7 linked regions of the Homo sapiens genome follow. The protein of the gene in region 5 purifies or fractionates together with the protein of the main gene of each other region. This does not show direct contact. Each region holds a gene or a part of one and is shown on either strand. Other genes may lie near its edges.

Evidence for each region.
Region 1: the proteins of ZBTB10 (region 5) and PPP1R10 purify together in Homo sapiens (affinity purification with mass spectrometry, with the first as the bait; one large-scale study listed by BioGRID). This does not show direct contact.
Region 2: the proteins of ZBTB10 (region 5) and RTRAF purify together in Homo sapiens (affinity purification with mass spectrometry, with the first as the bait; one large-scale study listed by BioGRID). This does not show direct contact.
Region 3: the proteins of ZBTB10 (region 5) and STAU2 purify together in Homo sapiens (affinity purification with mass spectrometry, with the first as the bait; one large-scale study listed by BioGRID). This does not show direct contact.
Region 4: the proteins of ZBTB10 (region 5) and SYNGAP1 purify together in Homo sapiens (co-immunoprecipitation; one large-scale study listed by IntAct). This does not show direct contact.
Region 6: the proteins of ZBTB10 (region 5) and LSM14A purify together in Homo sapiens (affinity purification with mass spectrometry, with the first as the bait; one large-scale study listed by BioGRID). This does not show direct contact.
Region 7: the proteins of ZBTB10 (region 5) and GRHL1 purify together in Homo sapiens (co-immunoprecipitation; one large-scale study listed by IntAct). This does not show direct contact.

What each region holds. Positions count from the first base shown.
Region 1 is NC_000006.12:30,607,244-30,610,743, forward strand, and holds part of PPP1R10 (serine/threonine-protein phosphatase 1 regulatory subunit 10), read right to left. Parts: intron 2,713-3,500; 5' UTR 2,702-2,712; coding exon 2,595-2,701; intron 1,921-2,594; coding exon 1,834-1,920; intron 1,672-1,833; coding exon 1,536-1,671; intron 649-1,535; coding exon 597-648; intron 1-596.
Region 2 is NC_000014.9:52,008,870-52,011,194, reverse strand, and holds the end of RTRAF (RNA transcription, translation and transport factor protein), read right to left. Parts: 3' UTR 501-2,325; downstream 1-500. Other genes in the region: NID2 (nidogen-2), read left to right, coding at 148-319. UniProt on the Homo sapiens protein: RNA-binding protein involved in modulation of mRNA transcription by Polymerase II. Component of the tRNA-splicing ligase complex and is required for tRNA ligation.
Region 3 is NC_000008.11:73,610,841-73,614,340, forward strand, and holds part of STAU2 (double-stranded RNA-binding protein Staufen homolog 2), read right to left. Parts: intron 3,117-3,500; coding exon 2,904-3,116; intron 1-2,903. UniProt on the Homo sapiens protein: RNA-binding protein required for the microtubule-dependent transport of neuronal RNA from the cell body to the dendrite.
Region 4 is NC_000006.12:33,440,565-33,444,064, reverse strand, and holds part of SYNGAP1 (ras/Rap GTPase-activating protein SynGAP), read right to left. Parts: intron 3,337-3,500; coding exon 3,100-3,336; intron 2,893-3,099; coding exon 2,691-2,892; intron 2,485-2,690; coding exon 2,306-2,484; intron 1,613-2,305; coding exon 1,571-1,612; intron 1,177-1,570; coding exon 105-1,176; intron 1-104. UniProt on the Homo sapiens protein: Major constituent of the PSD essential for postsynaptic signaling. Inhibitory regulator of the Ras-cAMP pathway.
Region 5 is NC_000008.11:80,517,226-80,520,725, reverse strand, and holds part of ZBTB10 (zinc finger and BTB domain-containing protein 10), read right to left. Parts: intron 2,324-3,500; coding exon 2,147-2,323; intron 1,945-2,146; coding exon 1,772-1,944; intron 1,504-1,771; coding exon 1,198-1,503; 3' UTR 1-1,197. UniProt on the Homo sapiens protein: May be involved in transcriptional regulation.
Region 6 is NC_000019.10:34,175,504-34,179,003, reverse strand, and holds part of LSM14A (protein LSM14 homolog A), read right to left. Parts: intron 1-3,500. UniProt on the Homo sapiens protein: Essential for formation of P-bodies, cytoplasmic structures that provide storage sites for translationally inactive mRNAs and protect them from degradation. Acts as a repressor of mRNA translation. May play a role in mitotic spindle assembly.
Region 7 is NC_000002.12:9,954,693-9,958,192, reverse strand, and holds part of GRHL1 (grainyhead-like protein 1 homolog), read right to left. Parts: intron 3,279-3,500; coding exon 3,092-3,278; intron 1-3,091. UniProt on the Homo sapiens protein: Transcription factor involved in epithelial development. Binds directly to the consensus DNA sequence 5'-AACCGGTT-3'.

The sequences.
Region 1 (3,500 bases), on a different chromosome or scaffold from region 5:
CCAGTTCCTCAAAAACTGACATTTTTTTAAAAAGCTACGTTAGTTGCTTTATGTATAACACACCTAATTGTTACAACAATCTGAAGACTTTTTATTTTCCTTTATAGATGTGAAAACAAGAATAAAATTTGTTTCTAAATATATGAAAAAATACTTTGTAACTCTTTCCTTTTGTACTTGGCAAATAACATCTCTGATCTATGGCACCTCTCTTCTGGCCAACATTTCCACTTATAAACTCATTTCATAATTTATCATTTAGTAATAGGAGTTTCACAGATGAGACACGCTAGGATGATACTATTTCCCACAGCAAATTTTAAGTGTATGTGTTTTATAACAAGCAATTTTAGGAATCAGCTTCCAGTTAAAGTATGGCACCTTATATTCAGCAACAGAGAAATGAACAACTTTGGAATTGAGAACAGGAAAGAGGGTACAGGTTAGAGGAACTTTCTCTTTAAAAGAAGGAAAAAAAGCAAGGTGAGGTAGAAAGAGAAAAGTGAAGGGACAATCCAAGGATGGGAAAAGATATTAAGGTAATTAAGTGGAAGTAATAGAGAAAAGCCCATGAGAGAGCAGAAGTGGCACCCTACCTTCATCCTCACTTGACTTGCTCAGCTGCTTCACCAGTTTAGCTGTGTTGTTCTATGAGAGATGGGAGCAGCAGAAAGGTAAATGCCAGGAGGCAAATAATTCCACTTAGAGCTAAAAACGACAAAAGTTACAGTCCTCCCTGCTTTTTTTTTTTTTTTTATTTTTTGAGACGGAGTCTCACTCTGTTGCCCAGGCTAGAGTGCAGTGGCGCAGTCTTGGCTCACTGCAGCCTCGACCTCCCAGGCTCAAATGATTCTCCCACCTGAGCCTCCTAAATAACTGAGACTACAGGCATGCACCACCACATCTGGGTAAATTTTTTGTATTTTTTGTAGAGACAGAGTTTTATCATTTTTGCCCACGCTGGTCTTGAACTACTGGGCTCAAGCAATCCACCCACCTCAGCATCCCAAAGTGTTGGGATTACAGGTGTGAGCCACCACACCTGGCTGACACATTCCTTTTTTTTTTTTTTTTTTGAGACGAAGTCTCACTCTGTCGCCCAGGCTGGAGTGCAGTGGTGCGATCTCGGCTCACAATAACCTCCACCTCCTGGGTTCAAGCGATTCTCCAGCCTCAGCCTCCTGATTAGCTGGGACTACAGGCGCATGCCACCATGCCTGGCTAATTTTTTGTATTTTTAGTGGAGACGGGGTTTCACCACGTCAGCCAGGATGGTCTCAGTCTCCTGACCTCATGATCCGCCCGCCTCAGCCTCTCAAAGTGCTGGGATCACAGGCGTGAGCCACCGTGCCCAGCCGCCACACACCTATTAAAGGAGATAAATTCAAACCAAGTCTTCTTCTTCTAAATTCCTATTTTTTTTCTGCTGTTCTACCTCACAGGCCCAAGATTACAGCCACATCAGTCAGTTTGAGTTTTTCATCCATTAGACTAAACCAAAAAAGGAAGAATCAGGGTTTAAAGACTAAAGGTACCTGCTTGAGATGGTCTACAGTGAGCGGTAGATGCTGCAGGGTCAGTAGAATTTGCTGGAGGAGGGGAATGTTGTTGGTTGTCTTTGAATACGTCAGCCAATTGTTAAGAAGTTTGTAGCCGCCAACGTCAATAAATCTGCAGGCAGGCAGGAGAGTCTATCAGTAATGCCCTTTCTAGGTTTTGACAGTACCACATCCTACAATCCCAGTCTCCCATCAATGACCGAGGAACCCCATGCCTCACCGCCCCATCTTTTCGCTACACCTTCCCATTCCAACCATCCAGATCCCCACTTACTTGACCAATATTTCTGGTGAACGGGTCTGCAGGAGAATGTTCAAGTAAGTGCATCGACTCACCATCTTTCGTGCTTCCTTCATCAAACTGCAGAAGATGAGTTAGGGTTAGAAATGAAGCAGCCAGTATCTCTTCTCTTAGCAAAAGCGCCTCTCTGTGAACTGCCTAGAGATTCCTAATGACTTGGGACTTTGCTCCAGAGAAGGGGAGTCACATATACCTCTAGGAAGATGGGATGGATCCAGTGTGACATGGAAACTTATGGGAGAACAGAGACACCGCAGTCTCTGACCTGGGGAGGAGAGCATCGCTGCCTCCGTAACACACAGGATGAATTCCATTCTGCCTCCAGGTGATAAGGCTATCCCTCAACAACTGTCCCTAATAGTCTGTTCAAGACTGGCTTAGTTATTTACTCTCCCCTGAAAAACCTGAGAATCCCTGAAGGAAAATAACATTATGGGTAGGTGGAACACGAACCAAAACAATCTAGAATTCTGTTACCAGGCTACCCTGCTCTCATTCCAAAGCATGACTCCCTTGGGACCGTGGACGTCCAAATCTCCAGTTTCCATTATGGTCAGAAACAAGTGATCATCTTTTCCTATCCCTTATCCTAAAATTGTTACATTTTAATCCTATTGCACTGACTATCTTTCCCTTTCCTTTCCAGGATCATTCCAGTGTGCCTCAACTGCAGCCATGTTTTAACACACAATATTCTCTACTCACAGTGAATACAAAAAGGGGTAAAGACTCACCTGAAGATCTTGGAAATCCCATCCACACTTTTGACTTCCCCATCTCGGTTAAGGAAGCTGTCCAGGCCCTTGAGAAGTTCTTTGGGGTCTATGGGACCCGAACCCATGATGGTGGTTTCTATGGTAAGAGGACAAAACAAACAAACCCACAGAATAAATGGGTGGCAAGGACTACCCGAGTAGGCCCTCTAATAAACCACATCTCTATATTTGACAAAGTATAATGACTAATTATTCAACTATGCTATTTTTTAGATATGAAAAATCGACACAGACCACTTGCCACTACTGAGAAAATAGCCCTGGCAAGTTAAGCATGGGGAGCATATGTGACTGAACAGGAAAGCAATTCGATTGGAGGAGTAGGGCAGCACACCTGTCCCTCCCTCCCAGCAGCATCCTTCCTAGGATGGCTGAACTTCACTAGATCGTATTAAAGCTAAGATCAGTTCCCATAACAAGATGTTCAACTCTCCAGGGCATTTACACCTATCGTTAAGTCCTGTCTTCCCTAGTTGCTGATAAATTTGGCTTGAAAAACAGCCTATAGCTTGATAGAAATTGGGCCAATCTTGGGTGTTTGAGCTAAATGTCTTATAAGACTTGAGTCCTTTTTATCTTAGCCCATTAAGAGTCATAATCACTACACATGGCAAGATATGTATCAGCTGAAGTGGTAGATGATGGAGAACAAAACAAAACTTGAAAACAGAATCCCTCCCTAAGGAGATCTGGGAGTAGGTGCCAGAGATTGAGACAAATGGATGCATGGAAATCAAGCAGGTCCTCCTAGACCTTGAATAGACTGTCACTCATTAGCCAAACACTACACAAGTTTTTACTGTCTCTAAGTTAAAAGGAAGCTAGTGGTTTGTGCTTTCAAAAGCAAAGATGCGAATCTGGTCC
Region 2 (2,325 bases), on a different chromosome or scaffold from region 5:
CTCTATTAACCTGGTTCTTGGGGACTTGGAGACACTTGGGCTTTGCTTTCCCCTGCTGACCCCCCTGCCCACCCGACCGTTGGAGGGCTTCAGGTTTGCCCTCCATATCCTGCAAACACTCCAGTCCTGACTTTGCTTTATTTCCAGGTCTGATAAGCCCTGAAGGACTTGCCATAGACCACATCCGCAGAACAATGTACTGGACGGACAGTGTCCTGGATAAGATAGAGAGCGCCCTGCTGGATGGCTCTGAGCGCAAGGTCCTCTTCTACACAGATCTGGTGAATCCCCGTGCCATCGCTGTGGATCCAATCCGAGGGTCAGCTGGGCTTCCCTAATTCTTCTCTTACCTGTAGATCCTGATGTGAAGCCCTTGGGTTTTAAATACAATGTGGGGAAGGTCAGAACAAGAGAGTGAAAGCTCAAATGCATTCATGTAACAAAGATTTACTGAGGATCTAAGAGGTGTCAGGACCTGTTCTAGGAAAAGACAAGGTCTGTTCTTTCATGGCACTTATATTTTATTAGGAGGAAACAAGACTGGTATAAACAATATTAGTCTGTGATGTGATATGTAGAAAATTCAGATAGTGTTGTGAGAACTAGGGCTACTCTGAATCAAATGATCAGGCGAGGCCTCAGCTGACACTTAAACTGGAAGTGAAGTGGGATTCCTCCAGCAGCACATTTAGAAACCAGGGTTGACGCTCACAGTAGGGCTGACCTACATCAAGTGACATTAGCCAAAGCTCAGACACCTCTGGCTTCAGTGTTGCTGTAGCAGAAATCAAGATAAACATTTTCCCTGTCTGTATAATTGCTAAGGTCATCAAATGTGACATACAGGATTTGTTCACTGTCTCAGTACTTGTTACAATCAGGGAGAATTTTTATATCTTGAGAAACTCTTGCCATGTTTAAGTGGAGTTTCTACGAAATGAAATTCCCAGATGCCCTTCAAATCAGTAAAGAAAACCTTCAGCTTTAATTTTCAGGTAAGTGCTTTTTGACTATGAAATACTTAGTGCAGTGCCTCAAAGGTGGTTTCAAACTTTGGGTTCTACACACAGGAAAAGTACCTGTATCCTTCTCTATTCCAGTTGACTTAACAGGAATTAATAGCCCTCTTAAAAACTCTTTGCATAGGCTTGCCTTTCTGACATTTGGACATTTGGAAGGTCCTTTTTTCTTTTTTTTTTCTTTTTTTTGAGACAAGGTCTTGCTTTGTTGCCGAGGCTGGGGTGCAGTGGCACAGTCTCGGCTGACTACAACCTCCATCTCCCGGGTTCAAGCAATTCTCCTGCCTCAGCCTCCCAAGTAGCTGGGACTACAGGCATGTGCCACCATGCCCAGCTAATTTTTGTATTTTTAGTCGAGACAGGGTTTCGCCATTTTGGTCTCCAACTCCTGACCCTGGGTGATCCACCTGCCTTGGCCTCCCAAAGTGCTGGGATTATAGGTATGAGCCACTGCGCCCGGCCCCTTATTCCTTCTTGGTGCTTGACCTGAAAACTGGGGAGAGCTGCCATCTTGTAGGCAATGAAACTTTGGCCATGTCTCTGGAGTCTGGGGAAAAAGCATACTTTTAAGCTGAAATCCACATCACAGCCATGAGTTTAAATATGAAAGTAGAACTTTCTTATCCAGACAGCAAATATAAATGCTAAAGGACTTGAATTTTTAATAAAAAGAAAACCCACCTTGAACCAGGTTGCAATATAACACATGTAATTACATCTCCTTCAACTGCGTAACAGAATGGTTGTCAAGCCTTCCTGCATATTTCTCATTTGCTTTCTATAGATTTCACCTTTACAACTTTCTTCCTCTGGCAATCCCCAAATAATTTACACCAAATATCTGTGTGAGCTTGTTTCAGACTTATTGTTGTTGATGATATTAAATCATTTTGGGGAGGAGACTGATCAGAAGCGATGAAGCAATGATATGCATGCTGTACCCTCTGGCCACCTCCACCTTAGCGCAAAGTGGAAACTGCTTTCTAGCTTTTGCTCTCAGCTTCTCTCTGCTTCATCTGTTGGGCATAAGGGATGAAATTCGCAACAGGGGAAACCTATGGTTTCTTCCTCTCCTCTCACTGAGGTTCTCTGTAGCCCAACTGATTTATTCAAAGCTTCTATAGCTTTTATAAAATAGTATTTTATAAAAAGTGCTTTCAACATTATTTCTGCTCTAACGATAAACCTGTTTGTTTCCTTATAACCTATTTCCACTTAATAGGACCATATTTCCTCGTTAGTATCTGTTATGAATATATTTCATTTTTAACGTGGCATTTAAAAGGTAAAGTGCTTAACTTAAAAT
Region 3 (3,500 bases), 6.9 Mb from region 5:
TGACTCTGAAAATCCAAAAGTTCACAATTAACCAATATCAAATGGGCACTGGAGTCAGATGTGACAACTGGATCTGAAAGCTGATTCTGCTACAGGATCTTGGATAGGTTTCTTAAATATAAAGGGCCTCATCTGTAAGATGGAAATGAATGCTGCATCACAGAGTGATTAAGTGATCAAATGAGACAATGTGATTATTTTATTACTTTAAATAAAACCAAGGCAAATAATCATAGATATTTTACCTGCTTCCATTGAGTGTAACAAACTATAGACCCTCAATGTATAAGCCATACAAGGAAGTGAGGAATATGCTAAAAATCAGGATACTATTCCAAGCTGATCCATTTACTGACATATTATAAGGTATGAACATACTTAAAATTATCTAGATTCCAACTCATTATACACATGTTGTTCTCTCAAAATAATCTTACATTTCAGAGGGTATCTACAAGCTTTATTTTAACATAAGACAGACATGGCAAAAGTAACTCCAAGTGTGATGTATATGAGGAAAAATGCAGGAGGCTAACCTAGTCTGGGAGTAGGAGAGGACCAGAGGAGTTCCTAAAAAAGTCAAGTTTATGCTGAGATCTGAATGATGCATAGGAGGGAAGTTCTGGGATAATATTACTTATATACTGGAAGCAGTAGCAAATAACTGAGAATTCAAAATGTTTCTCCTGTCTCCCACCTCTGGGGAATAACATTTAAATAATAATCTTGCTTTTAATAGCTATAGTTAAAACAAGAGTTAGATTTATATCCTACTATAGAAATGTACAGATCTTTTCCAGCCTAACAGTTTATTATGATGATTATTATTATGATTATTATTATTATTATCATTTTGAGATGGAATCTCATTCTGTCACCAAGGCTGGAGTGCAGTGGCAGTGATCTTGGCTCACCTCAACCTCTGCCTCCTAGGTTCAAGCGATTCTCATGCCTCAGCCTCCTGAGCTGTAGCTGGGATTAGAGACGCATGCCACCACAACCGACTAATTTTTGTATTTTTAGTAGAGACCAAGTTTCGCCATGTTGGCCATGCTGGTCTCGAACTCCTAGCCTCAAATGATCCACCCGCCTCAGCCTCCCAAAAGTGCTGGGATTACAGGCATGAGCCACCGTGCCCAGCCTGGTTTGCCTGGTTTATTATTCTTAATTTATCAAGATAAAACTTAGTTTAATAGAGCAGACAGAAGTTATGTGACCAGTTTTGTGCCACCATTCCAACATAAAATGCTGTTCCTCCATCACAGAAAAGCCATAGATTTTATATATTAATAGATTTAAGAAAACAGTTCATGGATATATTCACATAAACATAAAATGTGAATAGGTAGTATTAGATACAAAATACCAATAGTTAATATGTGTTATTTATTATAGTATTTGCATTATCATTAATAACAATGAATACTTAATAATTACTAATGCATTTTGTGCATTGTTTCAGTTAATACTTATAACAATCCCATACAGCAAGGTCAGTTACTATTCCCACTTTATAAATGAAGAAATATTTTTAAAGTTAGGTAACTTGCTCAGGCCACAGGGATTCATACTCAGAACTGACTCCAAAGTTCATTCTCTTAATAGCTATATTCTACTCCTGACTGTGTAGGAGGAGCATATGAATGAAAGTGCCAGTCCTCTTTGGAACCACTATGACTCATGATAAGTGGATCTATTTGTATTTATTTTTAGTCTACCTTACATATAACATATAATTCCAGTTCAGGGAATGCATTACCTACTACATCTTCTAAGTGAAGTCATGTCAGTATTCATTAAAAACAAATATTTAAGTAGTTATTTTTGTATATATGTATATATGTATTTTAAATAAAGGTACAAAGGTATAAAACCTGTAAAAATACCTAAATTGTGCCATTGTGCAATCAAAAGAAATCCATTGAGATTAAATATATTTCTTATCTGTAATCCTTCATTTGTATAGCCTGATCAGAAGAAGGCTGCTAAATCAGTGAGGCTGAGCCAGCAACTAAAATGCTGGCAATTTAAGGCTTTCTCTGGAAACACAGAACTCTAGCTCCAGACATGTCATACGTGTCAAGCATTCACAGGCACTGTCCTGTACTAAATGCTGATTCATCTCATTCCTCTGATATTTACCTTGCTTCTCTTATTAATGTAAATAAATTCTGACCCAATAAAAGAGTCACAATATCTTGAAAAGCTGTGTGCTCTATATTCTTCTTTGGCAAGGTATACACATCTGAACGAATGGCAACAAAATAACACCATCTACTTCATATGGTTGCTATGTGGATTAAATGTGATTAAAGCATGCAAAGTGTTGGGACAAAGTCTGGCACATAGACTGCTTTATGATTTCCAGCTGCTGTAGCTATCATTGTTAGTATTAGTCACATGATTTTTTTGTGTGTATCCTGTTACCATTTCATGATATCCTAAGAAGTTACTATGCAACAGCCATGTGTGCAGAAAGAACACTGGATTAGAGATCAGAGCGGTTCAGGAGGTTTGACATGATTGCTGAATAAAAATGGGCAAACTCTTTGAACACGTTTTGTAAAATCTTATTTGTAAAATGAGGGCTAACATCATCTACCTTATACGGTCATGAGGGGGATTATAGTAAAGGTGACATGAATGGTAAAGCACTTTTTAAACAACAAAGAAATACATAAATACCTAAGGTATTATGATTATTTGATGTACAAATGCAGGTGCACAGGTATTTAAAAAGCAAAATAGAATTGTCATTAATTTATAGTCACATGTCCTGCCCTCATTTCAGGACTGTATATAGTCCATAAGTTCAGGGATCTGCCTTATAGAAAAATGCTTATCTATAGCTACTATAATATTTATTTAGTAAAACTGACTGATGTTCACAAATATAAACTTACCTTTACTATTGTTTTAGGGCGTTTTTTAAAAAATAGTTTTGGCTTTTCCACCACAGGAAGAGGTGGAAGTTTTTTAAGCTCCTGTAAGACGGTGGTCGCAGCGCGCTTCTTGGAGAGTTTTTTGCTATTTCCTTCTCCTTCTGCAGAGAACTCTCCTACTGACACTCGAGTAACAAAGCTTTTCATATGTGGTGGTCCACTTTCTTTAATAACCTATTAAATACAAGTAAAATATTAAATAATGGATAGGCACTTGAGATGTATTCTTAAAGTATGACTTAATATTCATATCAAAACCAAAATTAGTATTATGCCAAAATTATAGTATTTCTTTAAGAAAGCTATTATGAAGGTATTATACTGGGACTATTTATGACACTTGATGCTTAATGCAATTGAAACAAAAGAAATCTAAATAAACACATTTGATTCATAGTCAAAATGATTTATTACTTTAAAACAGATCATTCTAATTACAGTTTCTCCATGTCTTATGGAACACAAATTTAAGAACATCAAAGATACCATTAGATTAGATACCATATTAGATTGGTCATCTAGAATGATAATTTGTATATAATTACATACCTAACTTCC
Region 4 (3,500 bases), on a different chromosome or scaffold from region 5:
GAAGATTGTAACTTCAGGCCACAGACTCTGTTTCAACCCCACCCCCCATCTCCTTCTTCCCTCCCTGTTGTGACCCAGCCCGCCTTCCTCCTGCCTTCACCTACCTGCTTGGTGATGGAGGGCTTCAGCCCCCCACCCCCTCCGCCACCGCTGCCCCCGCTGCCCCCAATGCTGCCCTCCTTGCTGAGGCTCTGTTGCCGTGGACGGGCGGGGCCATAACTTGGCTCTGGGGACTGCAATAGATTCCCGCTGGATGGCCGGGGTTTCTGGGCTGCGCTGACTGTCAACTGCTGAGACTTGCCCCTCTGCAATGGAGGCGGCTGGCCCCCGCCACCCCCACCGCTGCCCCCACCGCTCCCACCTCCAGGCCCTGAGGGGGCTGGCCTCTGGGGACCAATGGTGATCTGGGGAGGGGACAGCATGTGCTGCAGGTTGTCCTGGAGTGAAAGCTGCCGACGGGTGAAGTCAGTGCCAGAGGGTCCAAACTCATCACTGTAGCTGTGGCTATGAAGGATGGAGGCAGCAGGGGGCTTGGGGACCCCGGAAGAGAGGTCCTCACTCTTGCTATAGCCATGGAATGGGGCAAAGGTGTCCCCAGGGGGCTCTCCACCTCGGTGGTGGTGATGGTGGTGGTGGTGGTGATGGGAGGAAGGTGGGCCATGGCCACCGCCCCCTCCATGGCCGCCTGGGGGACCTGGCCCATCAGCAGCCATGTGGAAGAGAGGGTTCTGGAAGGAGAGGGGGATTCGCAGTTGCTGGGCAGGGACACCGTCTGTGGTGACACCCATCTGGCTGAGGCGCATGCCAGCCGCCGTGATGGATGAGCCACTCCCCTGGGAGAGGCGTCCGGCAGGCGCAGGCCGTAGCCCCAAGGCTGCTGTCAGCGAGGCCTGGCTTGAGTGCAGCAGGTCCCCTACGGCCGCCAGGTTCGAAACACTGCTGCTGTTGAGGCGGCCACCAGGCCCATCACCCTGTAAGTCCAGCATGGACACACTCTTGTTGACACTCAGCATCTTCTGCTCTGGCTCTGTGATGTCCGAGCTGCTCGTGCAGTATGCTGGTGAGGAACGGGCCAGGGGTGGACGGCTTACATAGAACAGGTCTTTACCACCACCAGGCGGTGGTGGGGGTGGCTTTTCCTTGGTTGGGGAGGGGAGGCGAGCCATGTCCATAGAGCTGTCAGAAGGGAAGGGGGCACACAAGCAGAAGGTAAGGTCAGGGCTCCTAGCAATTGAACCTTGCTGTGGTCTGGCACAGGCCTTGGGGTGAAAAGTGGGACCCAGAGGGAAGGGCTGAGAGCTAGCGGTGGCAGCCCTGAAGAGGGCAGGCAGGGAGGATGGGAGGGGACAGGTGAGTAAAGGGAAAGGACAGGGCCCCTCCGGGAAGGGGGTGAGGCCTAGAGGAGGGGAGATGGGGGCAGCAAGAGAAGGGATGGGGGCAGGGCTGGGCACATATGGAGGAGATGAGGTCCATGGAGGAGGAGAGGAGAGGAGTAGGGCGAAGGCCAGTGGAGTGGGAGAGGGAACAGACAGGAGAGGAGAGGAGGGCGGGGGAGGGGAGAGCCCCTCACCTGTTGAGGCCTCGAGCCATGAAGGACTGAAGGTCGATGGAGCTGGAGAGAGATGGAAAGAGGGGCGAGCACAGACAGAGAAGGAGAGAGATGTGGACAAATGAAAGGAGAGGCGGGAATGGTGGGATGGGTATGGTGTCATGGAGGAAGACACGGGCAGAGGAAAAAGCAGGGCCATCATCAAAATAATGAGCAGCAAATGAAGCACGGGCACCACCTATCAGAATGGAGGCTGGGACTCTGGAGCAGGCTGCAGGCCCTGCTAGGCTTCTGCTGTCACTGCTCTAAGTGCTGGATCATGGGGAGGTCTGTGGGGTTGTGGTCGGGGGCTGGGGGAAGTGCTTATTCACTAGCTATTACTGAGATGTTTGAACATTTTGACACATGGCTGACATGACATGCTGGCTGAACCTCAGCCTGGGGACTAGCATGGGCAGGCAGAGGGACAGCAAATCAGAGCTTGCAGCAGGGATGCTCTAGGCTTACAACTAAGCCGTGAGTTGGTGGAGCCTCAGCCCTATTCCTAGAGCTCCAAATCTCTCACTCCCTCAGGCTGTAAAGGGCTCTCAGCCTACCACTGACTGTACCTGTCTCCTTATCGTCTCCCCTGAGAACTTGGTGCTTTTTCCTCCCTTCTTTCAAGCCCTAGAGAGATGCATGTGGGGCCCAGTGAGGAGTATCTAGAATAGGAGAAGGGCTCCTAGGGCACAGGCCTGGCTGTCCCAGGGTGCTCACCTGTTGAGGTCCCGCATCATGTAGCCCTGCATCTCAGCCGATGGCCCCCGCAGTACCACAGGCTGAGGCCGGGGCCGCTCACTCTGGCGGCTTGGCTGCCTTTGGATGTTGGGGTTCCTCAGAGCTGTGCTGATGTCGTTGAGGAGCCGGGGCAGTGGACCCAGCTTCAGGAGGGCTTCCTGGAAGGGTGAGGCTGTTACCTGGGGGCTCAGTGCCCAGCTCTAAGAGGGCCTCTGAGGGTGCAGGTGGAGGGGGCCTGAGTTGGGATAGTAGTGGTGACACCTCGAGAAACAAGGGGAGAAAAAAAATCTTCAAAGGGTAGTTTCTCAGGCTCCAGGAACCTCTGGAGCCATCTGGGGATAGGGCAAAGAGGGGATCTGCTGACCTTGCTGAGCTGGGGCAGCACCTCCCAGAGTAGGGCATGCAGTGTGGAGAGCTCTCGGCCCAAGTCGATGTAACCCTCAAAGCTACTGCTGTTGGTTAGCGTGTCCAGATTGGAGATCTCATACAAAAACTGCTGCATGGAACCCCATTCCAGCTCCAGAAACTCATTCATGAAGCCCAGAAAGTCCTCCTTTGAGGTAAACCTAGCCAAGAATGCAGAAGATAAAGGTCACATACACACACACACACACACACACACACATACACACACATACACACACACACAAGGTATCATAGCCTCCCCATCTCAGGATCTCTGGGGACTCAGGAGACCCTTCTTGCCGACCCCCAGCCCTGCCACTCCCTGCCCTGCCACTCCCTGCCCTGCCCACTCCTGAAGCTTCCCTCACTTGGAAAAGTTGGCCAGGTTCTGGATGACCTTGGCAATGAGGGTGAGGGTTCGTGAGGTCTGCTCATCTGGGTACTCCTGCATAAGCCCAAAGAGACTGGGCGACATAATCGCTGGGCAGAGGAAGCGCAGGAAGAGTGAGGCGCTGATAAGCCTGTCTGCGATGTCCTCCCGGCCTCGCTCTGCGCAGCGCAGCCGCCACGAAGCAAACACCTCCTTCAGCTCCCTCGGGAACACGCTGGGGGGAAGGGTCGGGGAGACAGAGAGAGAGAGAGAGAAAGAGAGAGACCGGGACTGAGCCCCAGAGACCCTCAGCTTCCAGGGAACATGCTGAGGGGGGTGGTAGGAGGTGAGGGTGTGGAAACAGGGGTGAGAGAGACAGGGAAGGAGGGACCGCAGGAG
Region 5 (3,500 bases):
TGACTACTAGAAAGACTGTATCAAGGTGTAGTGACTTCAAGGACAGAAAAAAATAAATTAAGTATTGATCATAATTTCAAAACAATCAATATCCCGCTAAGTATGAAACAAAAGAGAATGCACATTTTGTGTTAATTTTCATGATAAAAGGGACACGGGTAAAAACCTGATATTTCACTTATATTGCATAACAAGCTAACCAAACTGGACATGGTGGATAAATTATAAAACAAATCATTTTACTTATTTCTATGATTTTTCTTTCAATTAGGTCTTTCAAATAGGACTGAGGTATAGTACACTGGCAAAAATAAAGAGGCAAACAAGAATAGTGCCAAAGTAACAGATACCCAAAACCAAATACCATGTCAGAAAATATCATATAGTAACCATTTATCAGATTAGAGCAGCAGAAGAAAGTTACTTCTAAATCATAATCATTTTAGTGGTATTTGTCAACTTCGCCACGGTAACTTCATAACATCATTCTTCATTTGTGAAGTAGTAAAATTCATGTCAAAAAGGAAGAGGGGAATGGAGGAAGTCAGTTAGTTCATTCCAATAAATTACCTCTCCAGTTCTTATAAACATGCCCATCAGCACAAAATCGAGAAATAATACCTAAGACTAGAAGAGACTTGGTTTAAGTTATGAAGCAAATTAAATGGAAAAATACAAGAAAATAGAACCAATGGGGTTGAAAAAGCCCCTCACTGAAAATCTGTATTAAAAAAAATAAAATTAATAAAAATAAAAATAGAAACAAAACTCTACTAGTACAAACTAGCCTGAGTGGTTTGATGGACAGAGTGATTGGGTCAATTGTCACTGTACTTCCATAAACGGATTTTCTCCATTCATGTTAAAGTAGCACATGAATGTAAGCTCTTTAAGGACTATTTTCATAGGACCCAAATAGTTACTGTATATCCTATAAATAAAAAATATTTTACTTTGATAACTGACTGAGTATGTGGGGACTCCATGTAATCCAACCACATGGTTGTTTGCTGTATAGTCCTGTGCAAATATAAAAAAAAATTTTTTTTGCTATAAGGCTTTGACCCTACAGTTTTCACAGCAACATAACTACTATCCAGCATGTACCATATTTTGCAAGCCTTCAAGTTCAACAATCCAAATTGTCGATTCATATTAGGTCCAAATGCAGCATCCTTGAGGAGTATAGTAGGTCAGTTAATCATCTAGAGACATACAAACTTCTCCTGATTCATCCCATCGAGAGGGATCATTCTGATCTTCTCCATCATCAACTAGCTCTTCATCAGCTTCTCCTACTTCATTCTCCTCGTATTCTTCATCCCGAGGGAATTCTGTATCCTGTCCCTGATCTACACCTTCTTGCCCTCCTGGCTGTGATTTATCTGCACAGTCTACACAAACACCATAACGTCGAGATCCATGTCTTATTCCAACACTGGCTGCTAACATGAAGATCTTCTTACACACCATACATTTGTATTTTTTATCCTTTTTATGCACCTAATTGGAGGGGGAAAAAATCCAATATAAGGATATTATATATAATAGAATGCATTTGAACCACTCAAATTAAACCACACATTTAATAGTGAGTGAATACACCAGTTTCTCTGTAAAAAGCTCACTATCAGTTCATAAAGTCAAACTGTTTAAAGCAATTTAGGAGACAATCTTCCTTAAATTCACAATTAACTGTTTAAATCCCTTTAAACTTCACTGACATAAATATAGTTTATCTCAAAGATCAGCTGTATTTAAAGTTACTTACCAGGGAATGTCTTTTTACATGTTCTCTTCGAGTAAACAGTTTTCCACAAATATCACAGCTAAATGATCTCACTCCTGTGTGAATGAGCAAGTGCCTTTTTAGTGTTCGTCTGTATTTGGCTACATAGCTACAATGAGGGCATTTTAACTTGTTCATGATTAGAGATGATTCACCTATGAGAATTAAAAAAAGAGAAAGTGCTTATTACACATTAAACAGAAAACTTGCTATCAAAACTTCTTATCTCTATCTCTGAGAACAGCAATTATGTGGAGCTACTGCTACTTGGTTTTTAAAAAATGCAGAACATGAAAGCTTTTAATTGTTAACAATTATTTAATTAATTCTGTATTTGTTTAGTTGACTAATACTTGCCATTTTCCCAGGTTTCTTGTTTTGGCCAAGATTCTGGCAATAATCCATACTTGAAATCATTTGAAGCACCTGGTATCAATCCATACTTGAAATCATTTGAAGTACCTGGTATCAATCCATACTTGAAATCATTTGAAGGACCAGGCATCAAACCATACTTGAAATCATGTGAAGTACCTAGTACAAGTAAAAATTCTGAATTAATAATGGTAATAAAGATCTGTCTCTCATCAGAGTCAGAAAACAGAAATTATATTTATATCCTACAGGCATTATGATAGAATTTCATAGTATGAGTTAAATAAAACTGTATTTTAGTCTAAAATTGAGATGTCTTCCTACTTTATTATCACAATTAAACAAAATACCATTCAACTATAGTAGAAGAAATTCAGTTAAAAAAATTAATCATGGGCCAGGCACAGTGGCTCATGCATATAATCCCAGCACTTTGCGAGGCTGAGGCAGAAGGATCACTTGAGCCCAGGAGTTTGCAACCAGCCTGGGCAACATGGAGAAACTCCATCTCCATCTCTACAAAAAAATTTTAAAAATTAGCTGGGCATGGTGGTGTGTGCCTGCAGTCCCAGCTACTGGGGAAGATCATTTGAGCCCGGGAGTTGCAGTGATTCAAGATTGCGCCACTGCACTCCAGCCAGGGCGACACAGTGGGATCATGTCTCAAAAAAAAAAAAAAAAAAAAAAAAAGGTGGCGGGCGGGAGAAAAAAACATGAATATCATTTAATTGTGCAGACGCCACAAGAAATTACCCTTTTAAAGGATGGGTATATTCAAACCAGAACTCCTAATAGTTGCTTTTTCTAACTACTCTATCACTTAAGATTTTATCACCCTAAAGCCCAGCTATCAAATGGGATATTCTCCTTATTACGAATCCAGGACAGGCACATAATTTTAAGATTAATTGGTACAGAAAAATAGACTAAGAATAAAGAATATATATAGGATAATTAAAAATGTAAAGTTCTATTACTAGATCCTTGTTTCAGACATATTAGGGCAAGGTAACTGAATGCTCTCAGGGTTCCCTGAAATTTCTTTCTAACTCCATCCTTAAATAAAATAACGTGCAGAAGATAGAATCAAAATAGAATAATACATGTGCCTAAGGATCTTCAGATTAGCAAGGACAGGAATTATATCCACTGGATTTAATTCCATCTTTAATGTAATTCCTTGGACCAGGAACCTTTTGGCAATAGGAATATATATCCAGAATCTTCCACAACTATTGCCACCCTGATCCAATCAATCATGAGCTCTAGCCCCTGGACTGTCTTCAGTAGCCACCAAAAACTTGTCTCCCTACTTCCACTGTTGCCTTCCTAGAGT
Region 6 (3,500 bases), on a different chromosome or scaffold from region 5:
GACGTAGGTGCAAACACAACTGGAACTATTCCATAAAATATTCATACATGTCACCACTGTGTAATTTCTTCCTACACCCTGAATGGAGGCTTCCTTTAAACTTTAAATGAAAATTATAATTGAGCTTGAGTCACAAAGAGTTTACCTCCCCAATAATGTTAATTATGTCACTAGATTTCATCCTCTTGCATCCCTACTCACTGAAATTCTTCAAGATTTCTTAATGTGAGGCAGGATAATTTAATTTTATAGGGAAATGCAATTGTGAACATGGAAAAGCATTATTTGGAGGTATACCCAAGATACTTCTACAAGAACAATAAGCTAAAATGCTAAATCATTTCCATTTACTCACTAACTAAACAACCTTTCATACCAGGAGCTCAGAGTCTGGAGGTGAAGGGGAAGGTGAAGACAGACAATAAACACATATGCAAATAAGCAAAGAAGATTAAGTGTAAGTCATGATCAGTGCTGAGAAGAAAATAAATTCAGAGCTGTGACACAGACTACAAACTGCAACAAACTGCAGAAACAAACTGCAACACAGATCATCTATAAACATACATAGCAGATTGACATCAAAGCCTTTCTAGGTTGCCTTTATGACTTCTTGACATATGCTTAGGTTCCGAGGATCAAAGCCCCTCAAACTTACCTGTTTCACTTTCTAGAACTAAAGCTAGTCTGTGACATCTCTAGCAGAAAATAAGGCACATCGACCATTTCACAGCACCTCTGCAATTAGGCTTTTGATTATGTGGTGTGATAACTTATCCACACTGAAACATTTTCAAAAGAGAAAACAGATTATTATTATTATTTTGTGTTTTTTTTTTTTTTGAGACAGAGTCTCGCTCTGTTGCCCAGGCTAGAGTACAGTGGTGTGATCTTGGCTCACTCTAACCTCCGCCTTTCAGGTTCAAGCAATTCTCCTGCCTCAGCCTCTCAAGTAGCTGGGATTACAGACATGCACCAGCACGCCCAGATAATTTTTGTATTTTTAGTAGAGACGGGGTTTCGCCATGTTGGCCAGACTGGTCTCGAGCTTCTGACTTCAGGTGATTCGCCTGCCTCAGCTTCCTGAAGTGCTGGGATTACAGGCTATCATTGTTATTTTTTAAGACAAGGTCTTGTTCTATGTTTCAGGCTGGAGTGCAGTGGCATGATCACAGCTCCTCTTGGGCTCAAGCAATCCCCCTGCCTCAGCCTCCCAAGTGGCTGGGACGACAGACATGCATGCCACCATGCTTGGCTAATGCACTTTTTAAAATTTTTTGTAGAAATGGAGTCTCCCTGTATTGCCGAGGCTGGTTTTGAACTCCTGGGCTCAAGCAATACCCCGGCCTTGACCTTTTGGAAATGTTGGGATTACAGGCCTGAGTCACCCTGCCCAGCCGGGATGTTTTTAATAATTATGCCAGAGCAGGCACAAACAAGGACTTTCCACCAGGGCAAACTAGGCCATATGGTTACCCTAATTATATACCACATCAAATGTAAATAGCCAAAAATTTCAAGAGTAGTTTATAGTTCCAGATATATTTAAATTATAATATCCAAGCCCTAAATTATAATATGGACAATATAAACCAAGTGAATCCCTTACTAAATATAAAGCTCTGAATATCTCACATTGTACACAAAATCAATTTCAGATGCATTATAAACGTCAATGTGAAAAAGCAAAGCACAAAAAGGTTTAAAGATAATCAAAGTATCTCTATGATGTTTTAAAAAAAGAAACACTAGCCATAAAAAACTGATGAACATGTTTACATTAAAATGAAGAACTTCTGTTAATTTAAAGAAACTACTAAATGGAAAAAATGTTTGCAATATATACATCCAACAATGGAGATATATTCAGAATACAGAACTCTAGAAAAAGACGTGTTTCGATTTAAAAAAGGAAAAGATTTCAAAGGCATTTTATGAAAAATGAAATCCAAACACCCAGATATGAAAAGCTGGTCAGCCCCATTTAGTAATGAGGGAAATGATTAAAACTAAATACAACTACATACCCACCAGGATTGGCTAGAATTGAAATATATGATACCACGTACGGTTGTTGGTAAGGGATATGAAACAAGAACTCTTACATACTAATAAATGAAGTAAAAACCACTAAACAACTACTTTGAAAAACTACCTGGCATTACCTGATAAAGACCAACATTCCCCATGTTCTTGCAATTCAAATTCTAAGTATATAATCTCAAGAAAACGAAATAAACATGCACCAGTGCACTTAAACAGAAATGTTCATAAAAGCATTGTTTATAATAGCCCCAAACTGCAAACAATCTAAATGCAATATCCAAAACAATGGCAGAAGGAATAAACTTGTGTTATATTCATGATGGAATATTATGAAACAATAAAAGCTAAAAATAAAATATATACAACACAATCCTATTTACATAAAGTTAAAAATGGGCAAAATTAAACTCTATTATTTAGAGATGTAAACTTATATGGTAAAACTATAAATGTCAGAAGAACATTTATATCTAGCTTAAATTAAGATGGTGATAGTTGTGATGGGAAAATATAGGTGGTGGGAGGCTTCTGGGATGCTGGCAATGTCTGTCTTGCCCTGGGTGGTGGTTACAAAGATGTTTGTTTAAAAATATTTCATTTTTATCTTATGTATCTTTTCAGCCTGTGTAGTTAGGTTTCCCAATAACACTCTCCCTGAGAAATTAAAAAAAAAAAAGTTCAAAAGAGAATGCTAAGACTGTTACTCAAAGAGATTAACTCTTAATCCATAGTTTAAAAACAGTAACAGGGATCTCTACATCCAAATACACACTGTATTATAAATTCCATGAATAAACTTTTGGCTTCAGGCCGGGTGCAGTGCCTCACACCTGTAATCCCAGCACTTTGGGAGGCCAAGGTGGGTGGATCATCTGAGGTCAGGAGTTTGAGACCAGCCTGGCCAACATGGTGAAACCCCGTCTCTACTCAAAATACAAAAATTAGCCAGCTGTGTTGGGCGCCTGTAGTCCCAGCTACTCGGAAGGCTGTGGCAGAACTGCTTGAACCCGGGAGGTGGAGGCTGCAGCGAGCCAAGATCGCACCACTGCACTCCAGCCTGGGCAAGAGCAAGACTCTGTCTCAAAACAACAACAAAAAAAAACGAAAACAAAACAAAACAAACACTTTTGGCTTTAATCTTTTAGACTACCATTCTTCGTTCAAATTTTGAAATGGAAGGTGAAATTTTCTGATATCGAATTACTCAACAAGTCATGTAAATTTTAAAATTTTAAGATTGAACTCCTTGCTTCTAATCTTGAAATCTGAAATGTGTCCAGTATTGACTAGACAGTTATAATGTAGTTTTCGATTAGATAATATCATGTAGACTAATATATAAAGGTTTGATAATGTCAGTTTTTGCGAACATAATCAAATTCCCCAAACTGGTTACACATTTAACTCATGTTGCTTAAGAAAAAGCAGCCGGGTGCGGTGGCTCATGCCTGTAA
Region 7 (3,500 bases), on a different chromosome or scaffold from region 5:
CAAAAAAAAAAAAAAAAAGAAAAAAAGAAATACCTCTGCCCTGGTTTTACTCGTTTATCTACACAACATTAGAGAAGAAGCTACTGAAAACACAACGGAGCTCTTCCAACTTTCTCAGTGCTCTTTCCTACCACCCTCCATTCAGATCAAATGCAAAAGCAGAAGGAACAGCCATGTTAACCCTTCATTTCTTCTAAGATCCAAATGAGGGCTTCATATGATCACTGTCTTTAGATACGCTGGGATTCATACGTCCATCACCCAAAGGACAAGTCTAACTCAGTGTTCTATTCCTTTTTTGGTTCTTTTCTTTGCAAGGGAAGTGAAAAGTAGGCAAATGTTAGTGAGTGTCCTGTAGAAATAACTCAACTGAGATTTAACCCCATTGCGCACTCCAAAATGGCTAAGGTGCTTAAAAATGGCTTTCAGCGTGAAAATTCTATTCCTGCATCCTTGTTTTCACCATTAAAGACAAAACACTGCTGGCCAGGCGCGGTGGCTCACGCCTGTAATCCCAGCACTTTGGGAGGCCGAGGCGGGTGGATCACAAGGTCAAGAGATCGAGACCATCCTGGCCAACATGTTAAAACCCCGTCTCTACTAAAAACACAAAAAATTAGCTGGGCATGGTGGCACACGCCTGCAGTCCTAGCTACTCGGGAGGCTGAGGCAGGAGAATTGCTTGAACCCAGGAGGCAGAGGCTGCAGTAAGTTGAGACTGCGCCACTGCACTCCAGCCTGGGCGACAGAGCGAGACTCTGTATCAAAAAAAAAAAAAATACTGCTTCATGTATTAACAATATGCTTTTCAAGCTTTATCAAAATTATTATGTAATAATGACTGATGCTTATACAGCCAAAGACCTGAAACAAATAATTCAGTTTATTTGAAAAAGAAAATAGGCCAGGCACAGTGGCTCACGTCCGTAATCCTAATACTTTGGGAGGCTAAGGCAGGAAGATTACCTGAGGCCAGGAATTTGAGACCAGCCTGGGCAACATAGTGAGACTCCTCTCTACAAAAAATTTTAAAATTAGCCAGGCATGACCTATAATCCTAGTTACTCAGGAAGCTGAGGCAGGAGAATCAGTCAACCCCAGGAGGTTGAGGTTGCAGTGAGCTATGACTGCACCACCACACTTCAGCGTGGGCAAGAGCGAGACTCTGCTTCTATTAAAAAAAAAAAAAAGAAGAAGAAGAAGAAGAAAATAAATTTACACCTATCACAAGAAGTCTGACAAGTAAGTACCACTAAAATTGTCACCCTTCATGGACAGACATGAGGATTTACATGCTTCTGAGACGCAGGAGTAGTACACCTAGTGTTATCACACGGGCCTTTCTGGCACAAAACTTGTACCAACGAGTTTCTCCCATTCTCAAAAGTTTCAGTTAAAAATATGTAACTTCATAATTAATGTTTTAGGAACTTAATTTATAGTAAGTCAATAAAACAAGCTATAAGAACAGATATATAATAATTTCCACTTCAAAGGAACTCTTCATGGCTATGTTTCCCTGGTAAGAGTTTCTTCTAGCATCATTAGTTATTACACAAGTTTCTGCTCATATTCAAAGAAAAAAGAGCTTACCTCAATCCCTCAGCCCCAACTTAGTTAGACGCATGGCCTCATACTAGGAAATAATCACCCCATTTTTTTTTTTTGAGATAGGGTCTGTCTCTGTCACCCAGGCTGGAGTGTAGTGATATGGCATGATCTCAGCTCACTGCAGCCTCCAACTCCCAGGCTTAAGTGATCCTCCCACCTCAGCCTCCTAAGTAGCTGAGACTATAGGCATGTGTACTAACCGGCTAATTTCTGTATTTTTTTATTTATTTATTTTTGGTAGAGACAGGGCCTCATCATGTTGCTCAGGCTAATCACCCTAATTTTAATAATAAAACTATCTCCTAGGCTTCTTTCACCTCTGTATTTCTTGTATTAAGGAAAGAATACAGTGCCAGAATGTAGCCAATGGCTAGCAACTGGCGATTCTGGGTAAAGGTATTCAGGAATTAATTATCCTCTTATTTTAAGTTTTATGCAGGTTTGAAAGTTTTTAAAACAAAAAGATAGCAAAAATAAACTGTAAAAAATATACACTACATTCATGAGAAGACACTGTCATTAAGAAGCTTCTGGTAATCCCAAACAGATCCTGTTTTTATACAGGTACTGATGACAACACAATGATTACACAGGTTAGTCACACAGAGTGACAATGAGACAAAGGCCCTGTGGCAAAGCTGTGCTTCAACTCAGTCTGCTGTTTTAAGTAGCACCCTAAAGACGTAGCCACCCCCAAATGTGTGTTTCTGGTCAGAAGGAAGAATGGAGAGGTGAATCCAGAAGGAGAGCGGTATGCACGCTGCATTAGAAAGACAGTGGCCTCGGCCATGGACCAGACTAGGGCCCCAGATGCACACATCCTAGCTGTGACCTCTGAGTGAGAAGTCGCACGCAGGCTGGTAACATGTCTAGCATAATAGTGGCAGCTAGTGTTATCAGGACAATGATGATGAGACAAATCAGTAGTGTCACTTCCAGATAATGAAAATCATGTAAAATTCCATGCAGAGTATAGATTATATTTAATTAAGAGTACTCCAAATCTCTAGAAACAGGCAACAAAACATATCCTGATCTTGGAACTGGACAGTCCTAGACTACAGAATATGATTTCAAAGGCTCTGTAGTATCATTTAGGGAAAGGAAATCATCCTGACTACCCAGGAACAAAGGTGAAAAGGTAAATGACCCCTGCCCACTTTCCATGGCACTAAGAACCACCTTCAGTGAGATGCTCAAACCCAAGAAGGCACATCTAGCATCTTCTTTTACGGTAGCTTCACCTTCTGGATAGAGCCACAGCAGCTGACCGCTTTGCATGTTTTAAAAACAACCCTTTGATTCTACAATCACAGATTTTTAGCTTCGAATCACAGTAAGTCAAAGTACTCATTAAACTATTTATAGTCACTACAGAAGCAACTTGCATGGCATTCTACCAGCAAATGTCTGTTTCTATGCTGCTGAATCAAGTGCATTGGAGACTGCTGTTAAGGGTTTTAAAGGCAGGCAAACCCACCTTGTAGTAGTCATAGAGCAGGCCCAGCGCAGCGGCGCTGTCTTCATCTCCATTGATGCTCATCATCGCTTTGGTCGCTGCAGTGAGAGGGTTTTCCAGGAAGGATTTCCAGGCCTCATCCTCACTAGTGTAGGACCGCCGCTGTGGATAAAGTGCTTCATTCTGAAGAACCAACACTGGCCGTTTGCTTCAGAGAAATTAAAAAAAAAACAAAAACACACACTTTTCTACTGCAAGGTATCATAAGCTACCAATTCCTTGACATTCCTATAAAATAGCCTATTGTTTCATCAATGACCCTAGGAAGTCAAATTAAGACAAGACCAGAAGACAAACCACGTAAGTGCAGACCAATGGGTCCCACAGTAAGACATAAAGTATCTAGGCAGCCAGAGAACTGGCAGTTCAC